Linked DNA regions of Homo sapiens. The protein of the gene in region 3 interacts with the protein of the main gene of each other region in a biochemical or structural test. Each region holds a gene or a part of one and is shown on either strand. Other genes may lie near its edges.

Region 1 (4,018 bases), on a different chromosome or scaffold from region 3:
GAAATGGAGAGCACTGCAGTGAATTCTTTAGGGCACTTTTGTGGCCGGATGCTTCCAACTTTGTCAGTCTTTTCTGCCTCAACTTCTTCCAGACATCAGTCACCATGAGACTGTTTTACTTTCAGGCGTATTGGGGGGTTTGATTTACTTTCCTTTTATTTCTTTATTTTTTGCTTATACTTGTTTTTGAAAACCTCCTCTGAGTTTGAAGGGACAGCTATTTTTATTGATTATCTTTAAGTCTCTCTACCATGGAGAAGAGCAGGAAGGGATACACTCTCCAGTGCATTTTCATGTTTTGAATCTGATTAGTGGATCACGTAGCTACTTTCCCTGTCGCGTCCAATTCACTATTTGCCCAGAAGCTTGGGGCAGAGGTCCTAGCAGGAGATGATGAATTCTCGTGGCTCTCGGCCTTCTCAGAGAAATAAATGCTTTGTGTAACATCTGTGCACACCATCCATTCCGCTCGCTGAGCGATGGAAAAGCTTGCCTGGAAGACTATGTGCACTGAAGTAAATGGGGTTGGGGGAGGGGACATTTCATATTTATAATGTGCTGAAGGTACCATATTTTAAATGTTATTTAATGCAGGTGATTTATTCAAACATTTGTTCTAGCTTAAGCTGGAATAAGCAGTGGTCATTTCAGAAGTTTTCATTTGTAATTCCTTCCTCTCCCTTGTTCCCAAGTAGGTAGTAGTAAGTATGTGCCACAGGCTGATTATCTGGGTAATCTTTTACGGGTGGGAGGTGAGATTGATAGTGCAATAATCAGTGATCTATAGACCCTCATGCACGATTCAAGTTTCACTCTTGTGGCTGATGCCATTATTGCACATTGGCCATTCCAAACCTGTGGAGAACTTTGTTGTCAGGCCCTGAGCGCTCACAGCTTCATTTGGCCCAGGTTGAAGACAAGGAAAGCTCTGCTGTGGCTGCCTCTGGACTGACACCCTCCCTAATGAGTCCTGATGAAACAGCCTTTCCTACATCCTTCCCTCACTCCCATGATTGGAGAAATGATTCATTGGGTGATGAGTGTTGGGGTTTTCTATACTCATGTTGCCATCTTGAGATGTTCAAAAAATTTGGGGTTAGAGCAACTGTTAGCGTCTCTATGAGCAATCAGTAGAACTTACACATCCTAGGAAATCTTTCTTTGTAAGTAATTCTTTTGGTCTCAAGTGATTCTCTTCATGTTGTCTCTTGATGTACATACCCCCAAGCAAGTTGGGGGGACTGTGATGACAATTAAATCACCTTCTCTGAAGTTCTGGCTCTGCAGAGACCAAACCTTACTGACTTGTACAGACTTGTACAAGTAAAGACTTATACAGATAGATTTTTGTTTTAACTTACAATCCGTTTTTTCCTCTTTTTTTTTTTTTTTTCTGGTGTTGGAGTCTTATTTAGAAAACAGGATAAATGACGCTGTTATCAAAAGTTGCCTGGGGTTCTGTATTTCTTCTCTGCCCTCCAATCCCCGACTGCTATGATGTTTACTACAGTGAACCCAGCCCATGGTAAACACAGGCTTCACCTGTTCTTGTTTGTTAGCCTTGACTGTGAGGCAGGACTTCCCTCGCTTGAACTGTTACACATACGATGTGTGTGTCACATCACATATTGTGCAGCTGTTGGTTTTCATGTAGTGCCCTGCGATGGAAATTAGATATATTTCATGTATTTTTCCATTGAAGGTGGAGTTTTTCAATGATCATGTGTTTTGTCCTCCTAAACAGTATACCAAAGTTTGTTTTTATAGTTGAGGATTGTATTGATAACCACTGGGGTTCCGCATTGAAGCAGGAACAAATTGCCTCTTTTTCTGGCCTTCTCTGTGGGACCTCTGCTTTTGTGAAGCAACTATTTATTTGAAGACCAGGGTATGGGCACTTTTGCCTTCTCTCCTCTCTGACTTTTGAGGGTATTGAGGGCGCCCTTAGTCATAGTCTCGACTCCGCCATTGCCTTCTCCTCGGCGTCCTCACAACTCTTAATTGGGCCTAGTGAAAATGGGGGCAGGTGAGAAGTCCATTTTGAGAATCAGCATAGTAAATTACATTTCTAATCCCAGAGGACTTAATATTTTCTTTTGTCACCCCAGAGGTGAAAAATCAGCAGTTGAAGCCTGACAGGCCTCAGTGGTGACCAGGAACAGAAGCAGCCTTCCTGTTAGTAGATGGGGGTACTTCTGTGGTGGGCAGAAGCCTTACTAAAGGGGAAGACAGACTTTGAAGTTTCTAGACGAGAAGGAGGCTAGCTTCTAGCCTGGGTGGCCATTATTCCAAAAGGTCATTGTTTCTCACTAGACCCCAGGGCACCAGATGAATTTCCAAGTTTAAACTCTTTCCTGCAGGTGATTACTTTGAAAAAGGTTGGTCCAGACCATTTTGATCAAGAACCTGTATATGTGTTGTGTTAGAGGCATCTGCCTCAAGTCTATGTACAGTGTTTGCTGCGGGTGTGTTCCAATATTCATTTTACCTCTGCTTGGGGGTTTTGTGTGTTCCCCTCCCCCCATGCCCTGCCTACCCCCTTTTCCCTGAACCACGTCCTTTTGAATAATTTCCAGATGGATTTCTGTAGCCATACCAAAGCCAGGGTGTTTTCATTCATGCGGATACTAGTATTTATAGATGTCTGACTACCTAACTTAATTTTTGTTTTTGAACTTCTAATTGGGGCCAGTGTAAGGTCGATCCCAGAGGCTGATCTGCAAATCAAGCTACATGTATTTGTGTATAAGACCCTGTGTTCAGGACTGGGTGACTTTTCTAAGAAATATGGGGTTTAGAATGGGGTTGACTGTATTTTTTAACCTAATTCTGGAGAGAAGATTGTATTTTTTACAGTTTTTTGGGTTTGGCTTCCTTCTCACATTTCTTTAGCTTTGAATTTTTACTAAATAAATTTCCTCCTGATTAATTTTTTTTTTCTCATCTGGGAATTTGAAATCTCGGTGCTTACTGTTACACCAATTTGTCCAAAGAGTTGAAATCACTTTAATGCCAGAACATGGTAAATTTGCAGCCATTTCAAGCAGGTGATGGTCTTTTTTTATAACATCGTTAACGGGTACCATTAAATATTCTGAGAGGTGAATGTAAAATATAAAAGGTATAGGTTTTTTTTTTTTTTTAAAGAAAACAATAAACTTTCAAAGAGAAAACCAGCATGAAGTCTGTATTGTATCCATTGACTTGATAAGTGATAGAAATTTATTTTAGGTTTTTGATCCATTGCTTATGGGGAAAGGAAGTTAGGGCAGAGGAAGGGATATTCTAGACATTTAATTCTTAGTGAAGACTAAGATACAGAATGATGTCAGGCTAATACTCAGTTTTGTAAAGAGCAATCTGGGGTGTTGACCCTTAAATGTTTGTGCACTCTTCTTGTTGCAGATAAAAGTCATTAAAAATCAAGTGAATAGAATGGATCTTGGGTGGAAAAACAATCTTGAAATAAACTTGTGATTGAGGATATTGTTCATTTGGTGCATGATTAAGGAGGATATTGTTCCTGGCTTTTGAGATAGTGCCTACCAATCTTAACCAAACAGTGATGGTATTTGTACTGCTCCCGGGGTCAGCCAACAAGCCTGCGTGCTGCCACAGGTGACCGACCTGTGACCCAGTTATGGCACCCCTTTGGGAAAGACTGCTTTATGCTTTAGATGATGGAGAGGGGTGGTTTCTGTTTTTAAAATGTTTGAATTAGACAGAAATGTGCACAAGTTTTAATTGTAGAAGTTGTTGAAATCTCTCAAAGTGAATTCATCCATGTAACTATTATAGCATCCAGATCAAGAAATAACATTCCCAGAACCCACAAGCCCCTTAGACTTTCAGCTACTCCTCCCAACTAGTTTTCTCTATTTTAAGTACCTTAACCTTCAAGCTCTTGAGCTGCTTCCTTCCATGGTTGTTCTAGAAGAGCCAGGTACCTGGTATAGGCTAGGGATTGACCAGGAATGCAAAGAGCTAGCAGCAAAGGATATGACTAATTGGGGAGGGG
Region 2 (4,484 bases), on a different chromosome or scaffold from region 3:
AAATCTTGTGTGAATTGTCCAATTTCTCCCGCACCTCCCATCAAGCAGTGTATGCTTTGGGTTACTACCCATACTGGACTGTTACCTCAGACAACATGCTGTGACTTTTCTACCTGTGATACTTTTTTTTTTTTTTTTTTTAAAGACAGAGTCTCACACTCTCGCCTGGGCTGAAGTGCAATGGCACGATCTCGGCTCACTGCAACCTCCACCTCCTGTGTTCAAGCGATTCTCTTGCCTCAGCCTCCCGAGTAGCTGGGATTACAGGCGCCTGCCACCACACGCAGCTAATTTTTGTATTTTTAGTAGAGACGTGGTTTCACTATGTCGGCCAGGCTGGCCTTGAAATCCTGACCTCATGATCCACCTGCCTCAGCCTCCCAAAGTGCTGGGATTACAGGCGTGAGCCACTGCGCCCAGCCTGAGAAATAATCTTCAAAAGCCTATTAATACACTTGCAGTTCCAGCAACATAAATTTGGCTTTCCTACATTCTGGATATACCAATAATAAACAAAGGCATCATGGTTTTTAAAACTTTATTTCAACATAACTATGCTTACAGAAATACACTCATATTGGTTAATAGAATGCAATTTAAGTTTAACTTATCCTACATAATTTGGACCAAAAACTTGGTACATGGTTTAGGATTTTAAAAAAGGATTTGCAATCTGGTTTATTTTTATCTATTACAAATGTATAAAAGATCTTCCATCAAATGCTGCTAAAGAAGGCAGCAAGAACCTTGAGAAATTTACCTTTGGTTTGCCTCAGAAAAGTAACACGTATTGCACTGCTTAAGTTTATAAAATTGGTGCAACAAAACATTGTTGTAATGTTTCAATGCCAGTTTAGAAAGTTCAATAACTAATGGATATGGAAGGGACCGGGAGGGAACCTATGTACACATGTGAAACTGTAAAAGCTATCTGATTTAGTTAATATTGCATGTAGATTGTAAATCTACACAAACCAAGATTCAGATAATTTCTTCAATCTGAATTAACACTATCTGTTCACTTCATCTGCTGAGGTCAACCAGGAAACTAGGAACACCAGCTGTAAGTTTTTCTGACTTATGTAAAAAAGAAACTTAACTTTCTTCCTCAGCTTATCAATCCAGAAGTGACAGTATACTACAGGCAAGGTATTCCTTCCATTGTCAACATTCATAGGGTGACATGCAATGAGGTCTACTTGGGTTTTAATTTGTATCAGCACTCATACGCAAAACAGTCTCCAAAGTTAATTACCACATGACTTTAGAAGTGACTCTAAAAAATAAAATGGCCCTTCTTAGAAGACTAGAGCAAAAGATCCAGCCATAGTTATAAGCCTTATTAAAAAAAAAAAAAAATGCAGCCCTTTGTGAATTACACAACTAAAAAAAAAAGTAGCCCCAGAATAAGAAGCAGCTCTGAAAAGAGGAAAAAATATAACTTAAAATATCTTGAAAACCAATGTGAATACAGGTTCAAAAGATAGTTAAGAGATTCATTTTCATAAGACTACCTAAGATTAAGGCTTATAATATATGCTAGTATTTCAAGTTTATCACTAATTACTAAACATCAATTTACAAATAACATGTTCAATTTTTGTTCTTTTATCCAAAGGGAAAATTCTAGGCTAAATTCTATCCAGTGTGGGGGAGGGGGACTAGAAAATAAAAAAGTTTCAAACAGTTCCATGCAAACATCACATTTTTCAAATGGAAAAACTTCCAACTGGACCAGAAGTTCATACTGCTAATGTACTTTTCATTGAAACAATTTTTAGTAAGTACAAATACATGGCATTAAGGTTCAGAACCTAATATAGGCCTGACAATCAAGTCCTTATTTTCTGGAGGAAGGCCTCAAGTCCAATAAATTTCCAGTAACAATGTTTTTACAAATCAATTTAATAATAAGGGGTTTTAATTTCCTTCATGTTTTTGTTTTTAGCATTCTAGTCTTAAGACTAGATTAGAAGTTAGCTCAATTCCCCAAAAGGCAAATGGTTTTTCTTTGCAGTATGAAAGAATCCACAAAAAAACCTCTTCCCCAAACTAATTCCTAATAACCAATCTGTGCTTAAGATGTATCTTTTTCTATACAATGTAAACGGTAACTTAGGTAAAATGTACCCATGAACATTAAAACTAGTCATTAGAAAGACTTAACTAGCTTTATAATTTAAGTTTTAAAACATAAATATTTGCAGCTTGATCTTCTGTTGACAATGATTGTCGGAGCCTAGAATTCAACATTTACAATGTCCATTCATGCACACAAAACACATACCATTATCACACAACTTACTCCTCATGTCTTAAGAGAAGAATCTTCCGCTTCTTTAAATCTTTGGCCTCCCAGTCAATGCCATGTTCAAACAACTTTTAACTCAAACTTCACTCTCAGATTTTTAACAAGCTTTCCACCCACACGTTATTAATGCTTTTCCTAATCTTTCATGTTGTACTGCCAAATCTGAAACCTGCCTCAAAGAGATCATCAGATTTTTAAAAAATGAAATATAAAGTGGTTATTTCAAAACGGAGTATGGGAGGTCAGAATTCAAGATTCCCTAATGGGATCATATTTTATTTTACTGCAATGAATGACTGCTATCAGTAAGAAAAATCCTCTATTGGATTCTTTCACACTCTTTGGCAACTGGCCAAAGAACCTACAAAAATGTTTTGGAGTACATGCCCTTTTTCATACAAAGTGCCCTCATAGGAACACCAGGATAGCTGCAATTCATTTGAGGCCTCACCTATAGAAAGAGGCTATCACACAGACAGCCAGGACACCCACCAGTTTGTGGAGATCCCTGAGAAAGTATGATTTTAAAAAATCTGGACTGTACTTGTTTCACCAGCCTTTTTCACTGTATAGGAAAGTTGCAGCTGGTCTACCAGCACTCATACTACCTTTCTTATCCTAGGTTTGCCGCGTAATAGCTATGGCTTTGGAATCTCCCAAGTGATATTCTATAAAACTTGAAGGAATAATTATATCTCCTAATTCCAGGTTTGTAGTTTCCAAATATCACTTACAGTTCTCTTTATTGTAAAGTAGCCATATGAACACCAACCATCTATGAGAAAAGGTTCTCCTCAAACATTTAACACTCTACAATTAGGAATTAGCTGTACCAAAACACATGAAAAAAAAAACTGATGGTTGGTATTTGAGATAAAAATTTGTTCGACATGCAACCTAGTGGTTTATTTATTGCAAAATCAAAACTGATAGCTGTGAATTTACTACATCCATTCGAAATAAATAAGTTATATGAAATACAGATTCTGGCATAGATATAAGATGTAAAAATCAAAATCAATAGATTGAACCTGCATATTTCATTTGCTCACAAACTTGCACACACTATTATTCTGCAAAATAGACAACTGCAGCAAAGAAAAAGAAAACTGCCCTTTTGCAAACAAGTCTAAAAGCATCCCTCCAAAGACGCCAAACAAAATAAACATGCATATATATATGTATAAAGTGTTACTGTTCAACACAAATGCTATTTCTAGGAAAAATTTAACTGCATAGGCAAAAAAACATAAACAGAAACCAAAAGAAAAAAAAAATGTGCAACATCTTAAGCCATTAAAGCACCAAAATAAAAAACACACCAAAATCACTGTTTTTATGACGATTAACATACACAAATAAAAAATATTGATCAAAACTCAGGAAGTAAATACTTGGACTGATAGACTGTCTATTGCTGGGGGAATTTTTCTTCAATTTAAATGTCTTCTCATCTCTAAAAAAAAAAATCTTAAAGTGCTAACTTTATATAAAGCAGGCAAATTCTTCAAGTAATTTGCTATTAAGTAAGCCAATTTTTTATAGATCTCAATAAAAAACGAAGAATAAACTAAAGTGAAACAGGAAGATAAGACATGGAGAAAAAAATGACAAGTTGTAGCTGGACAAAGCAATAAAATGCTGTTATACCATCTTAGCCTTCTAATTTCAATTAAACACATAAGCTAACAGATACCTGCTGGTTTAGTACACTCTCTTAGATTTACTAAAATTTACACAACAATCAACAGGTATACATAAAAAGTCCTAAGGAAAAGAATGCCACTTAAAAATCAACATCAGATACTAATTAAAGCAATCTTAAAAGGTTGTCTGCTATCATAAATGAATATAAAATGTAATATACCTTACAAACTAAGAACTGAAACCTTGTTCAAAGTTTCATTACTCCTGCCCTTGAGCTGCTTCTTCAAGATAGTACACATTAACCAAATGGCGATTGAGGTGTTTGCTGTAATCTTTTCCCTTTCTGAAAGAACGATCACAGAAGATACAAACAAAATCTCCCTTAGCCGCTTTGACTGCCAAGGCTTCCTTTGCATTTTTTCTGCTAGATTCTTGTGGAACTGGCCGAGCCCCATGCAATCCAGAATCATCACTACCCTCTGACATGTTGTCACTTAGGTCACTTCCTTCATGGCTGTGGATGCCT
Region 3 (7,864 bases):
CTTGAGGTCAGGAGCTCAAGAACAGCCTGGCCAACATGAAGAAACCCCATCTCTACTAAAAATACAAAAATTAGCTAAGCATGGTGGTGCACACCTGTAATCCCAGCTACTCGGGAGGCTGAGGCAGGAGAATTGCTTGAACCTGGGAGGCGGAGGTTGCACTGAGCTGAGATTGCGCCACTGCACTCCAGCCTGGGTGACAGAGCCAGACTCCGTCTCCAAAAAAAAAAAAAAAAAAAAAAAGAGGGCCAGCACCTATCACCCAAGAAAAAAGGGACCAAAGCAAAGCCAGGAGTCCCAGCTGAGCTAATGATCCTATCAACAATTAAATGAAACACAGCCAACATAAACGTGGCTACTCACACACCATCTCGACCACTTTATTTTGTAGGTGGTACTGAGAGTGATCAGAGGCAGACGAGGACATGCTTAAATACAAGGGCAAGCCTGCCTGGTATGCTCGCTGGGAAAGCCTCAAGCCAAGACCTCAGCAACTGCTGAGGTGGTTATTTAGACTTCACACAAAATTCTGCGTTAGGAGGATACCTCCCTGACATCCACTCTTGATTTAAATCTTCCAAACAGATCAATTTGGGAGGCAGAGGCTGCTTGTGTAGGTGTTTCCATATCTATTTTGATTTGTGCTAGAAGCAATGAGCACGTCTAGAAAAAGAACAGATCTTAAGTGGCTTTCTAGCAATGATACAGGAGAGACACGTGGCCCAACCTGAGTAGCAAGACATACTCGGTGAAGGCTGAGATCACCCGAACCACTGTAGTGGCATACCTGGCTTGTCAGAGGCGACTGTATGTTTAACTTGCCATTCTTGGGAATGTCTATTCTATATCCGAGGGGAAGAAAAGCGTTGAATCCAACAATGAGGTCAGGGTGCTCGTGGAAGAGCTGCGAGACACGTCTGATGACTCCAGGAGTATCGATGCTAGAAGAAACAACGGAAGTGGGCAAAAGGGTCTTGGGAAATAAATGAAAAATATAATCTATTCCCCACTCCCTTGATACTGCCACATAAAAACCTTCTCAACAGACAACAAAGGAACCTAAAATGTGACCCACCAGGCGCAGTGGCTCATGCCTGTAATCCCAGCACTTTAGGAGGCCGAGGCAGGCAGATCACCTGAGGTCAAGAGTTCGAGACCAGACTGGTCAACATGGTGAAACCCTGTCTGTACTAAAAATACAAAAACGAACTTGGAGTGGTGGTGCGTGCCTGCAGTCCCAGCTACTCAGGAGGCAGAGGCACAAGAATCACTTGCACCCGGGAGGCGGAGGCTGCAGTGAGCCCAGATCACACCACTGCACTCCAGCCTGGGCGACAGCACGAGAATCCATCTCAAAAAAAAAAAAAAAAGTGCCCCCATGTGATAGCATCTGTACACCATGACCTATCTCCTGACTGGCTAGGCCTGAGCTCCCTGTTCCCTCCTGGTGAGAACCAGAGAATACTGACATCGCTCAGCTCCCCTAAAACACTCCAAGAATGGGTACTCGGTTCTGAAAATGTCAGGAGAGCCAACCGCAAGGCCTGGACTCCAAGAAATGGCAGGAGGCCAAAGTCCTCTAAGCAATGTGAAAACTTCCCTCATTTTGTATCAGATAGAGATGACTATGACACAGGTTTCCATCTGAGCAAACAATTGCAATGCATAAATACCAATGGTACTGCCAAGAATGGGAAAGGTGTAAGAAAAATAGGAGGGGAGAGATGGGGTCTCCCTTCTGGCTGCATTGCAGCCCAGCCCTTAGCACTGGGCTCCCGGAAGGAAACCAGGCCAGCCCCACCATGTTTCCTAAGAGGGGGCAGCAGTATGGTAAGCATGTGACTTCCAAGAATCTGAGTCAGAGGGTCTGAGTTCTAGTGACACCTCTGCCACTTAGGTGGGTCCCTTACCCACTCCAAACCTCAGTGAGTCTCCTATAAAAACAAGGGCATGATCCCAGGGTTTCCCATCTATCTGTAATCTTCCTTGATTCTGGGCCTGCAAAATCATCTCATGTGTTTTAAACGTTTTCTGTGTGCCAGCTCCCTTACTAAGCATTTTATGCGTCTTACTTCCAAGCAGGCCTGGGACCACAGTGAGCCCAGAGAAGCATCTTGAGGACAAGATTAAAGGGGAAGAGGGTGCCAAAAATTTCAATCATCAAGACAATAACATTTTACAGCGCTTGAAAATAAAAATCAAAATGGGTCCCACCAAATCTTTCATGAACAAAACTAATATAAAAATCAACATATTAAATCAAGGCAGGATTTGACTCTATGAGTGTGCACGGCCTCGCCCTCCCTGCCTCCCCCCAGATCCCTGTCCTGCTTCCAGGAATCCCCACAAAGCTCCACAAGGTGGGTACTACCCATTTCCATTTTTGTTACGAGAAGGAGCTAGGGCTCTGAGAGATTGGACAACCTGCGCAAGGTCACCCGGCTAAGGGGGCAGGCTGGAGAGGGGAGGTCTCACCCCGCTAGGCCCGATTCCGGCCCAGGGGGGTCCCCTGAGGTGGAGAGGGGCCCCGCTGGTACCTCTGGCTTTTGAACTCCTTCATGATCTCCAGGAAGCCGTTGTAGGTGGCAGGGTCGCTGCCAAAGCGGATCTTCACCTGGTCCAGATAGGTGAGGGCGTCTTCTACCTGCAGAGAGGGGGAGGGTCCCGGTGGGCCCTGGCCGCGGAACGAGGGGACGAGGGGCCGGGGTCCCTGAGGGGAAGGGGATGGGCTGGGCTTTCGGAGGGCCGAGGTGAGAGGTGAGGGGTGAGGGGTCCGGGGCAGTGCAGAGGGGAGGCCGAGGTGGGGCTGGGGCCGGGCGGGGCCTGGGTGAGGGGCGCCCGCCCGCGGGGTCCAGAAGATGGGTTCCCCGAGGGAGGGCGGGGACGCCACTCACGTGCACCGGCAGCTTCTCGTGGCCTGCGGAGCCCGAGCGACCCCAGCGGGCGCCGCTCAGCCCCCGGCCCGCGGGGCCGCCGGCACCGCTGCCACCGCTGCCACCGCCAGCGTGCGCCATGTCCGAAGTCGGAGCTGCGCCCCGCCCCGCCCCCGCCCGAGGTCCTGCCGCGCATGCGCAGCCTCCGCCTTTGGAGGCGGGGTTTGATGACGTTGAGGGGCGGTGCTCTTTGAGGGACTCTTCTGAAGACCTTCTCCTTAAGATTGGTATCATAATTAATGATTTATATAGCAGGGGTAGGCGAGCCAAGACCCGCCGCCTACTTTGTCCGGCCCCGCAAGCTCAGAATTATTTTTACATGTTTACATAGCCGGGGGAAAAATCCAAAGAAGAATAGTCTATGACCTGTGAAAAGTTTGTGAAATTCACATTTGAGGGTCCCTGAATAAAGTTTTATTAGCACACAGACACGCCCACGCGTTTACCTGGCTTCTCTGCCTGCTTTCGCCTTACAACAGAGTAGGTAGTTGCTAAAGATCCTACAGATCTGCAGACCCTGAAGTATTTACGATCTGGCCTTTTATGGAAAAAGTTTGTTGGCCCCTGCTTTATAGAGTTGACGGGACGATGAGGTATGAGCCCCCAGCGCCCTAATATAGGGCCTTGCGTGGTGAATTTTTGCTAAATGGCCTTTAAGTTAGTCCTACTCCTCCCATCTTCACTTCCCTATCCTTGGCCCCGTCACTTCCCATCTGGACCAGTTTAGGAGCCTCCTAACTCTGGTACTTTCTTTTTTTTTTTTTTTTTTTTTTTTTTTTTTTGAGACAGAGTCTCGCTCTGTCGCCCAGGCTGGAGTGCAGTGGCGCGATTTCCGCTCACTGCAAGCTCCGCCTCCCGAGTTCACACCATTCTCCTGCCTCAGCCTCCTGAGTAGCTGGGACTACAGGCGCCCGCCACTGCGCCCTGCTAATTTTTTGTACTTTTAGTGCCACCCCACCTGGCTCTAACTCTGGTACTTTCTCAGCCCTGATACTATCAAGAACTCTAGGCTGGGGATGGTGGCTCACGCCTGTAATCCCAGCACTTTGGGAGGCCGAGGCGGACGGATCACGAGGTCAGGAGATAGAGACCATCCTGGCTAACACGGTGCAACCCCGTCTCTACTAAAAATACAAAAAATTAGCCGGGCCTTGAAAAAAAGAAAAAGAAAATGAAAAAATTGGCTGGGCGCCGTGGCTCACGCCTGTAATCCCAGCACTTTGGGACGCCGAGGCGGGCAGATCACCTGAGGTCTGGAGTTGGAGATTAGCCTGACCAACATGGAGAAACCCCGTCTCTACTAAAAATACAAAATTAGCCGGGCTTTGTGGCGCATGCCTGTAATCCCAGCTACTCGGGAGGCTGAGGCAAGAGAATTGCTTGAACCCGGGAGGCGGAGGTTGCAGTGAGCCAAGATCACGCCATTGCACTCCAGCCTGGGCAACAAGAGCAAAAACTCTGTCTCAAAAAATTAATTAATTAATTAATTAAATAATAAAATAAAATGAAAAAATTAGCTGGGCGTGGTGGTGCACACGTTTAGTCCCAGCTACTCGGGAGGCTGAGGCAGGATTGCTCATGCCCAAGAGTTCAAGGCTGCAGTGAGCCATGATCTTGCCACTGCACACCCCAGCCTGGGAAGCATAGCAGTGCTTTTTTTTTTTTTTTTTTTTAAAGAGCATCTCATCTCTTAAAAAAAAAAAAACAGAAAAACAAAAAACTCCACTTTTTCCACCACTCCTTCCAAACCTCCAAGGTCTTCCTATTTCTAATGAGATGAAATCTAAGCACCTACATTGCAGGCTGTCAGAATTGGTCCTTAGGAACCTTTTCCTGCAGGATTTTCCAAGCAAACTGCCTGCCTCTGTGCAGAACTTCACACAATTGCCTGACCAACCTGGCTGCTTCCTGGTCCCAAGCATTGGCACTCACCATTTCCTTTGCCAGAAGTACTGTCATGCCTCTTTGTTATTCAGAAAACACCTATACATCCTTCTAAACGCAGCCCAAATATCCCTTTCCCTCAGGAAGTGTTCCCAGTCCCCTTCTATGTCTCCCCTCAGTCCCTTGTATTTCATATTTGTTTTGTGTCCGTCTCTAATACAAATCCCTGACACAGTCTCTCAGTCAGCATTCATCAAATAAGTGAACGTTCAATTAATGACCAAGTGCTTTCTCTTTTTATAAGTGAAGAGGTGCAGGAAAGTTGAGAGTAAATTGGCATCGAGTGCATCATTTACCAGGCACCTTGCTAAGTGTCAGGAATAGAATGGTAAAAAGGAACGCAAATTTGGCCGTTAAGAGCTTTTAGTCTCTCAGGATAGACAGGAATCTAGTAATCACACAAATGTAAAGTTTCACATGTAACAAATACTTTAAAGAGAAGGTATACATGTAACAGTTCCTAAATTTCTGTTGCTATGACTGTGTAACAAATGAGCCCTTGACAATCCCAGCACTTTGGGAGGCCAAGGTGGGGGCATGCATTGAGGCCAGGAGTTTGAGACCAGCCCAGGCAACATAGCAAGATCCCATCTGTACAAAAACATTAAAAAGAAAGAAAAATGGAGAGAAAAAATAAAAACATTGTAAGGTCTGGGCTTTCTGTAAAAGAAAATAAAAAGCAGCTCAAGACTTAGAAGCTTCAAATGACAACAACATTCACGGGGCAAGTGGCTCATGGCTGTAATCCCAGCACTTTGGGAGGCAGAGGTGGGTGGATCACATGAGGCCAGGAGTTCAAGACCAGCCTGGACAAGATGGTGAAATCCCATCTCTACTAAAAATACAATAATTAGCCAGGTGTGGTGGCACACACCTGTAATCCCAGCTACTTGGGAGGTTGAGGCATGAGTATCGCTTGAACCCAGAAGGTGGAGGTTGCAATGAGCTGAGATTGCGCCACTGCACTCCAGCCTGGGGAACAGAGCAAGAGCAAGACCCTGTCTTGAAAAAAAAAAAAAAAGAAAGAAAAGAGACATTCATTTTACTCTTCAATCTGCAATTTGGGCAGGCTTGGGAGGAATAACTCAACCTTGGCATCAGCTGGGTGGCTCAAAGTCTGGGGGCTGGAATCACCTGAATGTTTGCTCACACATATGTATGTCAGTTGCTACAGGCTACAGGCCGAGACCCTCGCTGGGGCCGTTGCTTGGAATACCTACATGTGGTCTCCTTGCAGCCTGAGCTTCTTCACAACTACCGTTCTAAGAACAAGTGAGCGTGTGAGCCAGGTGGGAATCATATCATCTTTTCTTTTTCTTCTTCCTCTTCCTCTTCTTCTTCCTCTTCTCCTTCTCCTTCTTCTTCTTCCGGAGATGGCAGGGGTTGGGGTGGGACTCAGGGTCTCAGGCTGGCCCAGGCTGGCCTCAAACTCCTGGACTCAAAGGATCCTCCCACGTCAATCTGTTGAGTAGCTGGGACTACAGGCATGCATCACTGCACCCAGCTCCCATATTACCTTTTCTCACCCAGACTCGGAAGTCACGCAGAATCATTTCCATTGCATTCTTTCCATACAGGCTGTTACAAAGTTTTTCCTAAATTCAAGAGGAGGGCAAATGGCCAAGAGTATCATGTGGGACAGGAAATATGTTGTGGCTATTTTTGGAAAATACCACCTGTTACCTAGGGAAACCTAACCCAGTCTTGCAGGAGATGAGGGAGGCTTCCCAGAGGAGGTGGCATTCTAGCTGAGATCTGAAGAATGCGTAGGCATTCATCATGAGAAAAATCACGAACAGCTGTGATTTTTGAGGTGGGAGACAGCATGGTACATTTCAAGAGTTTTTTTTTTTTTAAGACGAGTTTCCCAGGCTGCAGAGAGGGAGGGGAAGAAAGAGAGTACAAGATAATCCCGGAGCAGCCAGAGGAGCGGAACACACAGCACCTTATGCACTGAGTTCAGGCTTTAGCATTCACGCTGGTGGAAACCATCCAAGGGCTTTGAGCGGAGGAGCTGCAAGTTCAGGTTTGCATTTGAAAGTGATCACTCTGGCTGCTCTGCAGGAAAGTGATTGGAGCGGAGCCAGGGAGGGTGGAGGGAGGCTGTTTCATCATTTAGGCAAAGGACGATGGTGGCTTAGACCAGGATGGGAGCAGTGGAAGTAGAGAGCGGTGGGTGGAAGGGAGTGGTATTTAGAAAGTAAAGCATGGAAGATTTGTGGCTCCCAGCCAGGAAGAGCAGCGAAGGCAGACTGAACACTCTGTGGCCACCAGATGTCTGGACAGTCCGTTTCTTACCAAAGCCTCCCAGTGTTACAGGAAATGGGTCCCGATCCAGACCCCCCAGAGAGGGTTTTTGGATTTCACGCAAGAAAGAATTCAGGGAGAGTCTGTAAAGTGAAAGCAAGTTTATAAGGAAAATAAAGGAACAAAGAATGGCTACTCCACAGACAGAGCAGCCCCGAGGGCCGCTTATTCCCCATTTTTATGATTTATTTCTTGATGATATGCTAAACAAGGGGTGGATTATTCATGCCTCCTCTTTTTAGACCATAGAGGGTAACTTCCTGACGTTGCCATGGCATTTCTAAACTGTCTTGGCGCTGGTGGGAGTGTAGCAGTGAGGACCACCAGAGGTCATTTTGATTTGGGTAGATTTTGGCCGGCTTCTTTACTGCAACCTGTTTTATCAGCAAGGTCTTTATGACCCGTATGTTGTGCTGACCTCCTATCTCATCCTGTGACTAAGAATGCTTTAACCATCTGGGAATGCAGTGCAGTAGGTCTTAGTCTTATTTTACCCAGCCCCTATTCAAGTCGGGGTTCCTCTGGTTCAAACACCTCTGACACTGTTACGGGAAAGGGGTCCCAATCCAGACCCCAAGAGAGGGTTCTTGGATCTCACGCAAGAAAGAATTCAGGGCCAGTCCATACAGTAAACTGAAAGTAAGTTTATTAGGAAAGTAAAGGACTAAAGAATGGCTACT
Region 4 (7,492 bases), on a different chromosome or scaffold from region 3:
ACTTGTTACTCATGGGGCGAGGAGACATAGAGATGTCACGAAGGACAGTAAGATTACAGGATCACTGGTTGAATGTTTGTCAACTGATAACCAAACTAGAGGGAAGGGTAGAGGTGTGCCACACAGCGCTGAATCTGGCCCCACCTTGGTCAATGTTTACAAAAATTCGAAAGTTAAAAGGCTTTTTTTTTTTTTTGAGATGGGAGTCTCGCTCTTGTCGCCCAGGCTGGAGTGCAGTAGCGCGATGTCGGCTCACTGCAATCTTCACCTCCCAGGTTCAAGCTATTCTGCTGCTCAGCCTCATAAGTAGCTGGGATTACAGGAGCCCACCACCACGCCCGGCTAATTTTTGTCCTTTTAGTAGAGACGGGGTTTCACCATGTTGGCCAGGCTGGTCTCGAACTCCTTACCTCAGGGGATCCGCCCGGCTCAGCCTCCCAAAGTGCTGGGATTACAGGCGTGAGCCACTGTGCCCGGCCAGTTTAAGGCAATTCTTATTAGACCTCCTGCTTACTGATAGATAGCAGAAACTGTAAACATGGTGGGTAACAGCTTGTAACAGCTTTGAACTTAAGGCCAAATGAACGAGAGAAATTTTAAGAATGGTCATTGTAAATTCCTACACTTCAAGTCATGCAATTATCTGCACAATGAATGAAATCTAACTTCATAATAGTTCACGTGAAAGGTCCTAGTTGACTGCAAGGTTACTGTGAGTCAGCAAAGCAACATGCCAAAAATACTAAGCCTGCCAGGGAATTCATTTGCAACAGGATTCAAGACAAAGAGGGCAACTTGGAACTTGATAATCATCCAACCACTTCCACAAGAGCCTGTTCACTTCTGGGTGCTCCATCCCAAACGGCAACAAGGATGATGAGTGATCAGAAAAAACAATGCTGGGCAAGGACAAAGAGATGAGAACTGTAAATGGAAGAACTGAAGGGGGAAGGGGATGGTCAACATTCATCCGGAGGAATTTTTATAATGTGCCTTGCTCCACGAGGCAAGATTTAGATCAGCGAAGTATTGGAAGAGGGCTCAAACCAGAGAAAAACTTCCTAATTGAGCCAGCCCTTATGAGGTTACTAAAGCTATTAGAATTCATGCTAAAGGGTGGGTTAGAAGAGGTTCACCCTGATCACCTCTGAATTCTAACATGTAGAAGTTTAATTCTATGATAAACTCATAAAATTTTAAAAATACCCTCAAAGGCTAAGTAGGCCGATTAGGTAATCAAAACACAATTAGATCCAGATTTTTGTGAGACAACAGGTTAAAAAAAATAAGTAAATTCTAAAAATACGTAAATAAAATTAGAAAGTGACTTTATTTTTACTTTTGGTGAAAAGTTCACAATACATTTGTTATCGAGGCAAGATTCTTAGAGGCGCATTGCAACTCAAAAAATAAAACAAAAGCTGGCTGTTTCCATAACCTCACTCACTTCAGATCTACCTCATCATTTGGGGCAGACAAAAGGAGGGAAGGGCACCCTGTTGTTCCGTTGCAATGTAACAAAATGTGACAAGAAAAATATTTATAAAGCCAAATTCTCTTGATCAGATTCAGGAAAAGTCAGCGACCCACAGGTTAATTTTTTTTTAATTTAAATGAAGAATGTCCAGTCTTACATATGGTGTTGGAGTCACCTATGATCACCTGAGTCATCCTGACCATACGTGAGCTGCACGCTCAGCTGCGGGTGTGACCCGTTTACTGGAAAACTCCAGCCCGAAGGGATCTGGAAGCAGTTTTTAAGACTGTGTGTGTATGAGACAGGTCGCGTCCTAGAGCAAACGGTTTTTTTTGTAAACAGACGGCATCCTAACAGGGGCGGTGCTACCCAGTCTGCGGGGAGTCGCTCGGGATCGAAGCACCTCAGAGCTCCTTCGAGCGTATCCCTTCGGGAAAGCCCCACGCCTTCCCCGAGGCGCCTCCTCCGGCCTGCAGCACGCCCTCGTCCTGCACTTCCTCCTCGGAATCTGCAAGGTATGCAGCTACCAGCCTCCCCAGGCGCCGGTTCGTTTGGTTTGCGCGGGGTCCGCGCCTTGGGGTCACCTCGCGAAAAGAGCGTGCGGCGTCCGGTGCACTGCGGTGTCAGCGCCCGCTTCGGGGACGCCCCGCCGCGGGGGCTCAGCGGGCGCGCACGCGCGGCCTCCTCCGCAGTGTGCAACCCCGCGGGGGAGGAGGGAATCGCGGCGACGTCACTGCCCCGAGGCTTCCAAAGGGGCGGAGCCTCCCGGGAGGCTGCGGCGCTCCCAGCCAGCGCGCGCGCGCGCGCCCCCGCCCCCACGTGTCCCTGCGGCCCCGGGGAATGTGGGTCAGGGAGCCGAGCGGCCTCACGTGTCCCCGCCCGCCGCCGCCGCCTCAGCGCCCATTATGTAATGCCGCGTCACGCGCCCGCCCAGCCAACCGGCGCCCGCGCGCCGCCGAACGTAAACACAGCGCGCACGTGGCTCGCGCGGCCGGGCCATGTGAGGGGGGGGCCGGGCCGGGCGCCGGCAGGCCGCGCTGCGGCTTTGCAGGGAGACAAGAGGGCGGGCGCCGGGCGGCCCGGGGGGCGATGGGAACCGAGCCAGAGGCGGACACGCGGCGCGCAGCAGCCCACCCCGCCCCACCGGCCATGGGGACACCCCCTGCCGCCGCCCCCCAAAGTGCCCCGCGGGCTCTGAGCGCTCCCTCCGGCCATCCCCCACCCGCCGCAGTCCGGTTCTTACCTGCATTCACCTCCATGGTGCCCTCGCGGAGGCGGCCGGGGCCGCCCGCTTCCCGCAGAGGGGGCAGCGCCGCCGCCGCCGCCTCAGCGCCGCGCCGCCCCGGGCTGGAAGCAGCGGTGGTCGCGGGGCCCCCTCATGGGCAGAGCGGGCGGGGCTCCCGGGCCCCAGGCCGTGCAGCGCACAGCAGGCTGCAGCGAGAGAGGGTGGCGGCGGCCGGCGAGCGGCGCTCCTCGCTGGGTCCCTGACAACAAAAGCGGCGGCGCGGCGGCTTCCTGCAGCCAGCGCACCGCGGCGGCGAGGGCGGCTGACGGGGAGGGCAGCCGCGACCATGTGACCCGCGCACACACCCCCTCCCTCCGCCCGCCCTCGGCCGGCCGCTGCGGCGACCTCCGCCCCGCCGCTCCCCTCCCTCCCGCCCGCTTCCCGGCTCCCCGGCTACCCTTTTCTCCTGCGCTTCCCCCTTCTCCCCTTCCTTCTCCTTGCCGAGCCCCTCCTCTTCCTTCGTTTTTCCCCTCCGTGCCGTAAACCTCTTCTCCGTTTCCCTCCGCCGCATATTCCTCCCCTCCTCCTCCTCTTTCCTCTCCTCCCGGCTGCCTTTCCCGCCTCTGGCCGGGAGTCCTCTCCACGCCCTGCCCCCCAACCTGGTGGCTCTTAGGTCAAAGCGGTGGCTTGGCGCCGAGCAAGGGTGATTCTCAGGACCCCGGCTGGGCCGGCTGGTTCGGGCTTGCTCAACCCTTGCGCCCCCCACCCCCACCCCCCGCTCCCACCCGACCGACCTCCAAACGCTGGTCTCTGAGGGCACAGACCCTTCCCTTTCCCTCTGCACCCTCTAGGTGATTTTATCCAATCTCATAGCTTAAGTAGACCTATGTTCTTGTGATTCCCAGATTTATATTTCAAGCCAAGACCTCTCTTCTAATCTCCAGATTCCTACATCCAGCAGCCCGTTTGATTATGCCGCTTTTTTGCATCTCAGATTTTAGACGGGTGTACGCGTGTGTCCGAACTCAGCTAATGTGCAGTCAAGATCTGGGCGTTTCACCTTGAATGTAAATTTTAGATCAAAAGAAAAAAGCTAGACATAAATTGTATGCGTGCTGAGGTGAATTCTGAGGAAAGTGCATTGATGCCCGCAATTTAAACGCATTACTGAAGTAAGATGGGCTGATAGAGGCATGAATAGATGATATGGTAAGATGTTAAACTTAGGCGATGGGGATATGGGTGTTGCTTGTAAAACTCTTTCCAGTTTGCTCTGAAATTCTTCACTATAGAAGGTGGGGAAAATGTCACGTGGAAGACATATTTACATGTGCAACACCCTATTTCCCCACCCCCCAGGTTTCTTCACCATATCAATATTTACTGTTTTGGTAAATCTGCAAGTTCCTGAAGCCAGCAAAATTATGTTTCTCTCCTAACACTCTCACAGCCTTTTATTCTCCATTCAATCCATTAGCAAGTCTGAGCTATTCTACCTTCAAAATATGTTCAATCCCTGTTTCTCACCGTTGGTATTGCTAGAGCAAACCATTATCTCTTGCCTCAGCTACTGCTCTGGTTCCCTAACTAGGAGAGTGCTTCTTGGGTCCTCCTACAGTCACTTCTCCCCAGCAGTCAAAGTATTATTTTTAAAATGTAAATAAGATCTGATTACTCTGCTGAAAACCCTCCAATGGCTTCGTGTTACACTTTGAAAAAATTCAACGACTTAACCTGACCTGCTTCGCCCTGCACAGATGTGGGTCCTGCTTCTCTTTCCAAGGCTGTCTTGATACCCAAACCCTTCTAAACACAGTTCCCTAATCACGGTAGCCCTCTATTCTTCCCTACTTCTGGAATTTATCACCCTCATGTGATGCTGATGGAAGAGTTCCCCAGGCCACGCTTTGTAGCTTGCTTGCTTTTTCATGTATCAACTACCATCTACTTCTACACAGGTAAAATGAGGTTAATATGAACAGTCTAGAAGGCAGAAAAGAAATCATAAAAGAGGATACCACTCTAAAAAGGCTGTGTACTGTATGATTCCAACTATACGACATTCTAGAAAAGGCAAAACTGGGCTGGGCGCGGGGGCTGACGCCTGTAATCCCAGCACTTTGGGAGGCCAAGGCGGGTGGATCACCTGAGGTCAGGAGTTCAAGACCAGCCTGACCAACATGGAGAAACCCCATCTCTACTAAAAATACAAAATTAGCCGGGGTGGTGGCGCATGCCTGTAATCCCAGCTACTCGGGAGGCTGAGGCAGGAGAATCGCTTGAACCCGGAAGGCGGAAGTTGCGGTGAGCCGAGATCGCGCCATTGCACTCCAGCCTGGGCAAAAAGAGCAAAACTCTGTCTCAAAAAAAGGAAGAAAAGGCAAAACTGGAGACAGTAGAAAGATCAGTGGTTACTAAAGGCTAGAGGGGAAGGAGGGATGAATAGAGCACAGAGGATTTTTAGGGCAGGGAAAGTATTCTGTATGATACTATAATGGTGAATATATGTTTTTACACATTTGTCAAAACTAGAACCTACAACGTCAAGAGTGAGCCCTGGCAGGGCGCAGTGGCTCACACCTGTAATCCCAGCACTTTGGGAGACTGATGTGGAAGGATCAATGAGCCCAGGTATTGGAGAATCGGAGACTAGCCTGGGCGATATGGCGAAACTCCATCTCTACAAAAAATACAAAAATTAGCCGGGTTTGGTGGTGTGCAACTGTAGTCCCAGCTACTCAAGAGGCTGATGCAGGAGCATCTCTTGATCTGGGAGGTTGAGGCTGCAGTAAGTCATGATCTCCCCAGTGCATTCCAGTCTGGGTGACAGAGCAAGGAGATCCCGTCTCGAAAAAAAAAAGAAGTGTATCCTAATGTAAACTGTGGCTTTGAGGCCGGGAGCGGTGGCTCACCCAGCACTTTGGGAGGCCGAGGACGGCAGATCATCTGAGATCAGGAGTTTGACACCAGACTGACCAACGTGGAGAAACCCCGTCTCTACTAAAAATACAAAATTAGCCGGGCATGGTGGCACATGCCTGTAATCCCAGCTAATATGGAGGGTGGAGCAGGAGAATCGCTTGAACCTGGGAGGCGGAGGTTGCGGTGAGCCGAGATCGTGCCGTTGCACTCCAGCCTGGGCAACAAGAGCAAAACTCTGTCTCAAAAAAATAAAATGAAAAAATAAACTATGGCTTTGAATGATGTATCAGTGTAGGTTCGATAGTGGTAACAAATGTACCACCGTGTCGCAGGATGTTTGATAGTGGGAGAAGCTGTGCGTTTGTGGAGGCAGGAGGTGCTTGGGAACTCTGAAGTTCACAGTACTGCTCTAGGCCAGGCGCGGTGGCTCACGCTTGTAATCCCAGCACTTTGAGAGGTCAAGGCAGGCGGATCTCTTGAGGCCAGGAGTTCAAGACCAGCCTGGCCAACTTGACAAAACCCCGTCTCTACTAAAAATACAAAAATTAGCCGGATGTGGTAGCACACACCTGTAATCCTAGCCACTAGGGAGGTTGAGTCACGAGAATCCCTTGAACCCGGGAGGCAGAGTTTATCGTAAGCTGAGATCATGCCACTGCACTCCAGCCTAGGCAACAGAGTGAGACTCTGTCTCAAAAATAAATAAATAAATAAATAAGTAAATAAATAAAGACTATTTAAAATTGTATAAGAGGTTACCACTATTTAAATTTGAAAAGAAGAATGTAAGTGAAAAATAGCCATTGCAAAGTATATCTTTAAGACCCTCTCTTCGATGATAGTGTCTATAAAATAATATCAGTGTCTATGAGCCTCAGCGTTTTTTAGAGGCTGCCTTCTTCCTATGAGACTTTGCAAGTAACTAGTAGAGGCTATAGAGCTATAACCCAAGTCAGTCACCAGCCACACCACTGGCCACTGGAAATTCGCTGGGCTCCTCAGTGCCAGAGGAGGATGCTCAGGAGCATCCTCTGGTTGGGCAGTACCCAGCGTGCTGTAGCTGCGGTGGAAATTGCCTTTTGCTGCTGTCATTCCAAGGAGCCTCATTTATTAATCCTGTGGTGTCTATGGCTTAGTCTGTTGGGATTCTCAGAATATTCATAGTGGATTTCTACCTACTCCACCTTCCTCATTCTGACCAAAATAACTGTTGAATGAAGTGACTGTGTCTTCAAAAGTTATCTGTTAAAAATGCAAATTACTTTCTAGGAAAGCTACCTCATTAGCCCTTACATACAATTAACAGAGCCTGCAAAACAACACAAGATAGGTCCATCTAGATATGAATAAAGGAAAGAAGAGCCTAAATGTTAAGAGTCCTCTTATCCCAAACTCAAGTAAGATAGGCCAAGTGGCGCACTGCAGTATGAGGACCTAGATGAAGGAGGGGCATTAGGAAAAAAAGAGAAAGGTGAAGTCTATTAAAGATAAGGCCAATTAAAAACATTTAAGGTCATTCCTCATTTTAAAATGTTCCAATGAGTCCTGCTAGCTCCTAATACCGAAACAACATGCCACTTAAATTGCCTTTTCTATGCCCTAGATGAGCAGTTCTCAAACTTTTGATCTCAGAACTCTGCACTCTTAAAATTGTTGAAGACCACAAAGTACTTTTTTTGTGGACTATATCAAGATCTACTTATTAGAAATGAAAACAGAGACATTTAAAACACAAAAATTCCCAAGCATGTTTGTCTCAGAGCAGCGACATCATCACATAGCAACAAATAGCTCTGGCAGTTTGCTGTGACACAGCAAATTGCAGTTGCCGTTCATCATGACATTTGTGACGTACCTTCTTCCAGGCT

The links.
Region 1: the proteins of SIN3B (region 3) and SUDS3 form a complex in vitro, tested with the Homo sapiens proteins (one study listed by BioGRID).
Region 2: the proteins of SIN3B (region 3) and REST form a complex in vitro, tested with the Homo sapiens proteins (one study listed by BioGRID).
Region 4: the proteins of SIN3B (region 3) and NR1D2 form a complex in vitro, tested with the Homo sapiens proteins (one study listed by BioGRID).

What each region holds. Positions count from the first base shown.
Region 1 is NC_000012.12:118,414,550-118,418,567, forward strand, and holds the end of SUDS3 (sin3 histone deacetylase corepressor complex component SDS3), read left to right. Parts: 3' UTR 1-3,484; downstream 3,485-4,018.
Region 2 is NC_000004.12:56,931,885-56,936,368, reverse strand, and holds the end of REST (RE1-silencing transcription factor), read right to left. Parts: coding exon 4,217-4,484; 3' UTR 525-4,216; downstream 1-524. UniProt on the Homo sapiens protein: Transcriptional repressor which binds neuron-restrictive silencer element (NRSE) and represses neuronal gene transcription in non-neuronal cells.
Region 3 is NC_000019.10:16,824,571-16,832,434, reverse strand, and holds the start of SIN3B (paired amphipathic helix protein Sin3b), read right to left. Parts: upstream 3,038-7,864; 5' UTR 3,015-3,037; coding exon 2,895-3,014; intron 2,645-2,894; coding exon 2,538-2,644; intron 942-2,537; coding exon 788-941; intron 1-787.
Region 4 is NC_000003.12:23,940,823-23,948,314, reverse strand, and holds the start of NR1D2 (nuclear receptor subfamily 1 group D member 2), read right to left. Parts: upstream 3,030-7,492; 5' UTR 2,737-3,029; coding exon 2,721-2,736; intron 2,195-2,720; exon of another isoform or gene 2,062-2,194; intron 1,993-2,061; exon of another isoform or gene 1,753-1,992; intron 1-1,752. UniProt on the Homo sapiens protein: Transcriptional repressor which coordinates circadian rhythm and metabolic pathways in a heme-dependent manner.